Regions from separate parts of the Homo sapiens genome. Here region 1 is linked to region 2. Evidence: fine-mapped expression QTL. A gene starts in region 2. The other region holds a variant in brackets. All regions are shown on one strand. Distances are between the middles of the regions.

Evidence for each region.
Region 1: its variant is fine-mapped to the expression of PDE7B in testis (GTEx, PIP above 0.99).

The regions. Positions count from the first base shown.
Region 1 is chr6:136,034,227-136,039,226 of GRCh38, forward strand. All of the region lies in intron 2 of PDE7B (phosphodiesterase 7B), which reads left to right. It also overlaps the pseudogene COX5BP2. Among named protein-coding and RNA genes, the nearest start is that of PDE7B-AS1, 36 kb to the right of the region's middle. RefSeq lists enhancers at 3,578-4,078, 4,079-4,579. The variant A/T (reference allele first, on the strand shown) is at 2,690.
Region 2 is chr6:135,848,875-135,854,363 of GRCh38, forward strand. PDE7B (phosphodiesterase 7B) reads left to right here and starts at 2,827. Exons shown (of 13, transcript NM_018945.4): 1 at 2,827-3,145. The coding sequence starts at 3,125. LOC101928373 (a long non-coding RNA gene) reads right to left here. Exons shown (of 3, transcript NR_187609.1): 3 at 5,162-5,489. RefSeq lists a silencer at 2,614-2,851.

The DNA.
Region 1 (5,000 bases), 190 kb after region 2:
GCTTATCTGCCTAGTGACTGGAGCACCCATAGTCTACAAGATTTTTACATAGCCCTCAGAACACCAAAAATTCTTCAACATAATCCAGGTTCTAAATCAACTATATATTTGACACTTTTCTTGGTTGTATACTTTAGTATCGGGGTTATCAATTCTTTTATAGCTCCAACCACAAAGCAAAGTCTTTTTATTTTTAGTTTTTGGAAGAAGGAGCCAATGCAATGGCTAGTTTTTATTAAAAAGAAGAAACTTTTTAGCACATTTTGAGTAACTTAGTGCAGGGGCTCAGTGGGCCCACTGGTGGGGCAGCTTGTAATAGTTTCCAGTCAGGGCATCACCGGGGCTCACCTTTGTCCAGCCAAAACCAGATGATGGCACTATTCTCTTCACAGATGCTGCCCACTGCTGGTGAAGGAGGGGGGCTAAATTAAGGTCCTCTTTGGTACCTGAAGCTGCCTTTGGGGGTAGTATATTATATGGGTCCAGTCCCTTCCGTGCAGCCATCATGATATCCCTCTCCAACCCAGTCACCTGCTCATTGTCAGTAAGAACATCACCTCCAGATGCATTGGAGTGCACTTCAACCACCCCTCAGGGACCCTGGGCCCTCAGGGCCCGCACAGCCGGCACCCCAGCTCCTCAAAGTAACCTCGAAGCCATGAAGCCATCACACCCTCAACAAGTAACAGTACTTCCAGGAACAGCAAAGTCTTTTTGATACAAGTAGGTGTCCATTGTCCATTGGAACAAGCTGTTTTGACTTTGTTAGTTCTCATTATTTTGGGTTGATTCACAATGCCTGAAAAAGAACTTGGTTATTTTGAAAATCTATCTTAAAATGTCCTGTCTGCAACCCATTAATTACTGATATTAACATGTGTAAGAATCCTCACAAGTTACCTAGATGGGTCTTCTCTGTTCCATGATTCCTTTGATCACATAACAACCCCACCCTTTCCCCACCCTCAGTGATCCAAACTTCTGGCTGCAGATACCATATCAAGATGAATGATGTCCACTGAGTAGTGAAAATTATAGGTTTACAGGCATGTTCTTCTAAAGTAACTATCTGAAAAACAAAAGAGATCCCAGCCTATGAGATGTTAGCTACGAAATGTAACAAAACCACCTTTCAGATAATTCACATGGTAGAGAGGTTTTAGTCCAGCAAGTACTAGCCTCGCATCAGTTTGTCCCAATCTCTTGAACCTGCAGTTGAGCCAAAAATTTCCGAGCCAAGCTTTCTCGCAAGATTTCCTGTACTTCCTGTTTCTATGTGAGCCAGAAATACCATGAGAATGACCTTTCTTGTGGTATTTTTGCCCTTATACTCCAGGATGAAAATAATCCCATATTGGGGGAACTTTTTTTAAATTGTGCAAATATTTCCAGGTTTCAAACCTTCAAATGAAGTAGGTTCCTCCTTGGGAATGAAAATGTGAAATGGTGATGGCTTGGCCCTGACTCATCTCCACTAGGAAGTATTCGTGCTCAGTGATCCAACATTTTGTAATTTCTCTAAGATATTTTTACAAGGAACTAGATAAAATAGTACAGAGGATACAATGGAAATGTATATCCTTGGATTTTTTTTAAAAAGTCATTCTTGAAGAAATGAACAATGAAGTGTTGTGTTCTTAGTACATTAGTGTATGTGATATATGATATCACATATTTGTTTTCTTTGTTCTTAACCCCTTTGTTCCAAGGGTCAGGATATCCTGATGCTAAGTACTATTGCAAAATAACTGAACAAAAATAAAAATAGTCAAACACTTAGGAAACTCTTCAGTTGTTATGTCAAGGAAGTTTGTGACTGAGGAGTGAGTTTAAGACATTATTCAGGAAATATGATAATAAAGCAAACAGTCTACATGTGATTATTAAATAAAATCATCTCAATCCTAGAGAGTCTTGATGCCCCCAGCCTGATGGAAGGGTAAGATAAGGACTGGACGGGCTGTCAAAGTGGTGGAAGTGTTGAACTGATGGTGAAATCCTTTCATCTCTTATCAGAGAGGGAAAAAGGAAGGGCACATCTTTCTAATCAAGTAGACCGCTGATTATTCCCTAATTGTGTTGTATGTATATCTGGTTGTTATAGAAAGAGCTGCTAGATCAATATTTTCATAACAAAATTCACCAAAAGCAGTGTCTTCAATGTCTTTATTATTGTTTTATACCCTCTTGCCCCTTCTTCACCTGTTAGGAAGGAGAGTAGGTTTGCCAGTATGCTTTTCCATCCAGAAAAAAGAAAATTCACTTAATCCAGTATGGAAAACTAAACTTATTAACCATGGATTTAGAGAAATAATAAAACAACAATAAAATTACAGTTGTCTTTGCTGGTTTCAACTTTAAAAAGAAATGAGGTGGGAGTAATGAAAATAAAACACACTCTACAACGATCTTTCTCCTCTTCCCCAAGTTTCCTCCTCTCTCCCATGAAGAAATATCAAATAATTGTGTGATAAACCAGCCTTGAAAGGAATGTAGAGCAGAAGCAACAGATTATACACCAGCAAAATGGCATGCCAAGCAAAATAAAGCACTTTGCAATGTGGAGACGTGAAGAGAGGAAGATGGGATTGTTACAATGTTCTCCAAGAAAACAGGGGCTATTCACTTGAATGTGCAAGTTCAAATTGTTCCTACAAACCCAATTTGCTGGCAAAAGTGCCAAATACAA[A/T]ACTACCCTACTTTCGTTTCTGTCCAAGGCCTTTCACATAAGCTACAGGGGGCATCGCCTTTTGTTGAATTGGTTCTTACTTTCAGGGTTAGCGCCTCCATCTCTGAGACTAGGAACAAGAGGCATGGCCCACAGTTGATGTTGCCCTCGATTCAACCACTCTCAGGTCGGGGACACAGTAGTCAGTGGCCCACATAATAAATCAACAGTGCTCTCCCTCCAGAAGGTGAATTGTTAACATTCTTTTCTTTCTTTCATTGCCATTTATGTCCCCTGTGAACATCCTTTAAAATGCTTGTTCCTTTGAAAATGGGTTTTGAATGAGCCTGAGCCACATATCCAGGCTATGCAGGCCACTGCCCATACGCATGAGGATCTTGATGCTTCCCGAATTCGCATCTTTCGGAGTTAACTGTGGAATGTGATTCAATGTTATTTCCCTTCCAGCTGAAGGGCAGCTGAGGTTATGAAGGGATTTGACTAATAGGTCATAACCCAGATAGGTTTGCCGAGAACCAAATGACACAAGGGGGAGGGATGTGGAGAAGGAGCGAGAGTGATCAAACTGAGGCACTGAGGATCAACCAAGCCCATCCCAGCACTGGTCTTGGTGACTGGGCAAGGTGCCCCCCAACCCCCATCAGGCCCTCCAGAGAGAAGCAGCTGCAGATTGGCTCTGCAGACTCTCAGCTTCCTCTGTTTTTTTGAGAACTCCTTGGGGCTTGCAGGCCTGAGCCTGTACCACAGGGGTGACTCCTCACCTGACACCTCCAGATAACTGGCCTCCAGCAAGGGGGGAGCCCCTCTGTGAGGTTAGCAAAGGGGAAGCCCCGCTTCTTTGCCTGAAGTCCTTAAGAGCTAAGCCGACAAAGAGCTAAGAGTCAACAAACTTTGACAAGCACCAAAAGAGAATTGAGAACAAATAAATCAGAAGAAAGAAGAGGAAAAGCAAATGCTAGAACCTCGATGGCTTTTTTTTTTCTCCCTGCTGTCGTTCCAGCTGTAGCCTGGGATTAATTAAGTGCTGTGAACTCAGTGCCAGAGAGAGGAGGGGAAAAAAAATGCATTCTATCTCTAAGGAAGGAGTACAGTAACAGTTTCTCACCAGAGAGAAACCTAGGGAAGTGAATCGCTCTCGTCGGCAGTGTTTGTGGAGGGCCTGAAGAGACAGGGAGGTTGTGCCAGGCTGGAGGAGGCTTGTCTTTCCGAAGCTGGAGAGGATCTTACGGGGGTTCGCTTTTCCCTGCCTGGGAAGAATTTCCCCTGTGGTAGCAGCAGCAGCAGCAGCAGAAGCAGAAACAGCAGCAGCAGCAACAGCAGCAGCAGCAGCAGCACCACCACCACCACTACCTCCTCTTCTGGGGCACAAGACAGAATGCCTGTGCTAGAGCGATATTTCCACCCAGCAGAGCTAGGCAGGAGGTGGACAGGCCCAGAAGGTGTGCTGCCCTCCTCCCCGGGAAGCCGGCCGGGGTGCCAGCAGGGGCCGCTGCCCTGGGACTTGCCAGAGATGATCAGGATGGTAAAGCTGGTTTGGAAATCCAAAAGTGAGCTGCAGGCGACCAAACAGAGAGGCATTCTGGACAATGAAGATGCTCTCCGCAGCTTTCCAGGTAAATTGACCATGGGGTGTAATAGGTCACAGGACCAAGTCTGATAACTAACTCCCTTTCTTTGTAGAGTCCAAGCCATAGGGAGGAAAATGAACTGTGTAGCATCAGGTCTGAGGGCTGTGACTTCCAAATGTCTGCTGTATGATAGAAATGCATCTTGAAATTAAGAGTGATTTAGTAGGAGGAGCATTTGACTGGAAATCAAGAAACCTGGGTCCTGGACTCAGCTTGACAAATGCTTGCCCTTTGGGCTTGCACAAGCCAAATTTCCTGAGTTTCAGTCCCCACCAAGGAGGGGGTGGAATTGGATGCTCTTTAATGGCCATCCTGACTCTAACATTTCTTGTCAACAAGTTAGAGATATCCCTAGGAGAATATTCTCCTTGGGTGGCTTTTTATCATTCTTTCTATAAAGTAAAATACATTTTCCAATTTTTAACTATGCCATTTACAGCATGTATTATGTTCCCAGCACTGAGTTTGGCATGCAAGCTTTTTATGTCCTGGGCAAGTTGGTAAACTTTCTTGACTTGGTTTCCCCTTTGGCAAATGTCAGCAATATAAACACCTTTATTGATATCAACTCACTCACAAATGTGGAAATAATGATTCCCAGGGACTTTGTCTTGTCATAAGAATGTGCTGTGTTTGGGACGGTTGTGGAGAACTTCACTGTGTTTCTGACAGTGGATACAACC
Region 2 (5,489 bases):
GTCCTTAACACCAACATATAATTGGAAGTAAACCACTTCTAGCCACCTCCACCAAAGCATCGTGGTAGACACCACTAGGATGTCTGGCTTGTTTATTGCAATATATCGTTTATTAGACTCTCTTCTACCTTGACCTCCACATGGTAGCCAGAGCGATCCTGTCAAAAAGTAAGTCAGATTGCCTCATTCCTCTCCTTAAAGCCCTGTTTCATGCAGACAGGAAGCCAAAGTCCTTACAATGACCTAGAAAACTCTCCTTGATCTGTCACCTCTGCACCCATTGCCATATCCTACTACTTACCAGCCAAATACTCCAGTCCCCAGAGCCTTGCACTTAATGTCCTCTTGTTTAAAATGCTCTCCCTATGCCTCCCTCATCAACTTCCCCTTTGTGTCCAACATCATCTTTGCAGTGGCACCTTCTCTGCATACTCACTTTAAAATTGCAAGCCTCTATCTGACTAGTGACCCTTCCCTCTCCTGTTTCTTCTTCACAACAGTATTACCACCCGATATCCTATATAAATTTTTTATTTGTTGTTATGGCCATTCTCCTTTCAGAAGAATCTAAGTTTCGTGGGGTCAAAGAATTACGTGTTGGAGGGTGTGTATGTGTGTTATATGTTTTCACTGCATTCTCCCCAGCACCTAGAACAGTGCCTGGTACAGAGTACACAATCAAATATCTGTTGCTGTTCAGTGAAGGTCCAGAACTGTTATTTATTTCACCTCAAAACCAGGCTCTTCTCCCAGTCTTCCCCATGTCAGTAAATGGCAACTCTAGTCCAGTTTGCCCAAGCCAGGAACCTGGAAATTACTCTTGATTCCTCTCTTTTTCTCACACCTCTCATCTTCAAATACTGCCAACGCTCTCTGCAAATACACAGGCCCCCTTCCAAAATCTGGCCCTCCCACCTTCTCCACTGCTCTCACCCAAGTCCGAGCCATGATGTGCTCTCACTTAGGTTAGCACAGTGGCCTCATTTATTGGTCTCTCTGCTTCTACTCTTGCTCCCTAGGAGTCTATCTTCCACAGAGAAAAGAGAGAAATCTCTTCAGAATTCGTGTCGAATCATAGACATTCCTCAGTTCAAAACACTCTGATAGGTAGGTTTTCACCTTGGAATAAAATCTAAGTCGTGTGCATGGCCTGTAAGACATGTCCTGATCTTGTCCCAGACATACCTTCTGAAACTTATTTCTTCCCTTTGCTCATTCTCTTCCAGCCACTCTATTTCCCTTCCTGTTCCTTGGCTCTGCCAAGCACTCATGTGTTGTGGGACCTTTCCATGGCTTCATCTGCATGGAAGGTAGAGGCACACAGTACCTGCTATGTCCCATCATTCGGGCCTCCGCTCCAAGTTGCTTTATCAGAGGGCTGCCCTGATCATCTTTCCTAAAATAGCACACACACCACACACACACACATGCACGTGTACACACACACCTCATTCTCCTTACCTTATTTTGAAGCCCTCATTGCCAACTGACATTATACGTTTACTTATTTTTCTTTGACAATTTCCCTGCTTCTCCAAAATGTAGACTCCATGGGGGCAAAGAACCATCTGTTTTGTTCACTATTGTAGCTTCAACACCAAAGATAAACCCCAACAACTACAGGGATGCTTAATCCTAGCGCCTAGGCTCTTAGGGATACATAAATACTTTCTTTCTCAAAGAAACAATATTAGTATTTGAAAAAGGAATGTGGACATTCTTTAGTGTTGCGCCCACCCCTAAAACATAGTCTGCCTCGGAGCAATGGAGAAATCTGATTGGCCCCTGTGGGTCCCATGCCCCCTTGTGGCTCTGTCGTGGGAATGGGGCTGGGGGCAAAGTCCATGCAATCCATAGAAGATAGAGGAAGGAAAGTTCCGCCCACCGCCCACCCAAAAAAGGTCTGTTAGCAGAATTTAGGATGGGGATGGGGAAAAGGAGGAGGATGTGGGGGAGGCAGAAACAACAGATGGCAACTATGGGGATTTTTCCAGAGTGGGAAGTGTAACCCAGGGATAAGCTGGGGTCCCTGGTAAAGGAAGTATCCCTAAATAACTGGACCTTCATACTCTTTGGGAAAGAACAAGCTGAGGCCCCAGGCACACCTGCATGGCATCACCATAGCCTTGCTTCTTGAATGACTCCTGCTGGCATCAGGAGGCATCTCCCTGGCAGGAACAAGCCTGAGGCTTCACCACGGAAGCTGGAGGAAACGCAGGGACCCATGGCACAAACTGACACAGGAGTTCTATGTTTCATTGCACATCATTTTGTTCACCAGTGCATTTGTACGATTCTGCCTCTATGGCTATCAAGTTTAATTAACAACTCATTTTTAGGTAAGAGTAAAAATGAATTAGGTAAAAAAAAATAAGCAACAGCTGCCAAGTGAGCATGGAGCACATACACTCACAGATGGAAAAAATCTACATCTTGCTGCTATGATTTAGCTCAGGGTTTTATATTTAATTTTTGTTTTGTTTTGCTTTTGTTTTTATACACCTCACCACAAGGTATTTTAAATTCTTTAAATGTATTCCCGAATATAGAAAATGTTTCTTGGGCTCTCCTGAGAGTGGGGTGCCCAGGCTGACCACAGGCACACACACATTCTTCCCATAGTACAGTACTTTAAAATTAATAGCACATGCAGAGGAAAAACTAAACCCTTTGACGTCACTCTTGAAATGAGGAAACATAAACAGAAAAGGCTCCACTCCAGTAAGCTGCCAGAGTTGAAGCCGATTGGTCTCTGCTTTTCCTTGCCTGTGGCAACTGACAGCACCTCCCAGCCTAGCAGGCCGGCGGCTGCTCACCCAGCCAGTCAGTTGGTCTGGGCACTGCAGCAGGCTCGGCTCTGTCCCAGCACTTGTCTGGGAGAAAAGTGGTGTTACTCACCCAGGGAGAGTCTCTCTTTCTACCTTCCTTCTTTCTCGATCTCCTTGTGTGCTTTTGTGTTTCTTTATTTCTTTTCCTTTTTTTTCTTTTTTTTTTTTTGTTACTTAATTATATTCCTAATCCTGGATGAAGTTGCTGGATTCTGCAGCACAAGTCTTCATGAACAAGCAGCACCGCTCAGAGATTTCACGGCATTCAAAGGTCACAGAACTGCCACTATGGTTAAATGTCTTGTTTAATGGTTGAGGTATGTACAACAAATTTAAGCGGCAAGCTCAGTTTTCTTGAGAGAATAGAGTCACAGAGAGATGGCAGGATTTTTATTTAAAATGAACCTGTACATATATATGTTTTTTGTCTGTGATTGTTACTACAGCAACCAGCTTTTGAATTTCCTTCCTTTTTCTAGGCGAACTGACTAAACATTATCACTTACCCTGAATTAACCGTTTAAGGGCAGCAGGGTTTCATTCCAACCAGTGTAATGAGACTCCGGCATTTTCACTGCACTTTGAGCCCACACTGAGGTGGTCTTTAAAAAAAAAAATAAAGAATGCAATATTTTTTTTCTCCAACATAAATCTTGGAGTTGGGTAATTTTCATTTTTGGTGGGACAGGATAGGAAAATGCTGGTAAAGGGATTGGTAAGGTTTGTGGAACAGGGAAGAAGGAAATTAGTTTTTTTCTTGAGTTTTTCATGTTGGTTGATAGCAGACTTCAAGATGAAGAAATTAGTGGCAAGAAGGGAAGAAGCTGATAGTGAGACTGAAGGTAGAAAAAAATCAATAGAAGATGTCCAAAAAATGAGCTCTGAAGAAAAATCCTTCATCACCTTGTTGCATTTTTCAAAAAATGTTTTGGATTCAGAAGTCCAGGAGAGATGCAAGTACTAAGTTACATGACCAGAAATTTAGATATTATTATTTATAAAGGAAAGTAAAACTTCTTTATTACCACTGCAAATTTGCTAATTATCTTTTCCTACAATAGTTGAAAATGGAGTCAGATATTCAATTAGGGGCTTAAGTGATTGAGCCTGGGGACTAATTAATCATTTAAAAATTCTGTTCTTCATGTGCTCTAGCCAGAGTGACTATTGCAATAAGAGTAAACCTCTTTGCACCAGAGACAGGCATAGGCATTCATATACAGTAAACACACTAAATGCTGCAGGAAGATTGGCAATTCAATACAGGGCTAATGTTGTTTTCAGTGGCACATTATTATGTCTTAAGGAGGATCCCTGCTAAAAATCATTCCTATCCAAAGAGTCGGTTTTTGTAACAGCAATTTAAGTAATATATGGTTACCATGGATTTCCCTATTACCCTTCTCAAAGTTATGCAATAGCAAATAAGACAGGATTATTTGAAATCCTTACCCTGTTCCAAAATTTCTAACCGATTTTCTTAAAGTTTCTATTCTCAACATTGAGAACCTGAAAGCTTTAAAACTGGGTCATGTTAGCAGTAATATTAAGCACGATTTCAAACATGAGGTGTATTTCAAAGGGTTAAAAAAATTAACTGCATAAGACTGGAATGTACTAAGTTAAGAACTGCAAAAATATTAGCTCTGAAATGCAGAGGATGTGCCGTGAATGGACAATTGCTTTTCTGCAGCGCCTAGTGGGAAAACAAGGACTTTGTGTGTTGCAAACGCATAACTGCAGCTCCTCCATTTCCTCTGCTTTATCTTTTATTACTGGCTGGTGAAACAAAGACAGGTGTCAGTAGTTACGTCTTGATTGACATTTTCTCCAATAAAATGAAGTCACTTTTGTCTCAAGTAGAAGCCCACAGTTAACTAGTTGCAACTCCAAAAACTGTCTCTGCCTTGTAAGAATTTTTACCTGACACTGTAAGCTGTCTAATTTCAGAATGTACTCACTCTCTTGAACAACATGTGACAAAATCAGTGGTGACTATATGTCAGCAAATTAGCTGGGAGAATTTTTTTTTTTAATTAAGTTATTTAGGGCAAGGGTGGAAAAGTCTAAGATGTGTCAGGGACAGGCATTAATTTAGGGAAAATAATTACACGAGTGCATCATTTAATGCCTTACACAGGGTTCAGCACAAAGCTACTCACTGTCAGTTCTCCATAAAAACCTAGTTAAAATGTTTGCCTAGAATTTACTACCTTTCATATATTGTAAATTATTTAAATAATTTTGGTCTTTTCATGTGTTTTTGAAAAGCACTTTTGGTGTCAGTCCAGCCTGAAATATTATCTAAAAATCAAGTCAATGATACAGAGAAGGACATTTCAAACACTGACACTTTATTTTCAGCCTAAGGACATCTTAAATGCAAAAGTAAAATGACCAAGTTTCCTCAAAGTGGGAATGTACCACCTGGAAAATGCCTCAGCCTAGTAATTATTCGTCTGAAGTCTAACTTGTTGTTAGCCAGGCCCAAATCACAGGAGGAAGCTGTTTGTTGACTCACAGAAGATAGTGTTGGAAGGAATTTATTAAGTGGTAAGCTAATCCCAAAGAATACTAAAAGGGCTTTGTTTATATTAAAGAGAAGTGTCAAATTTAAGGATCAGAACAGACTTTGAAACATCTAAATGTAGAAGCTAAGAG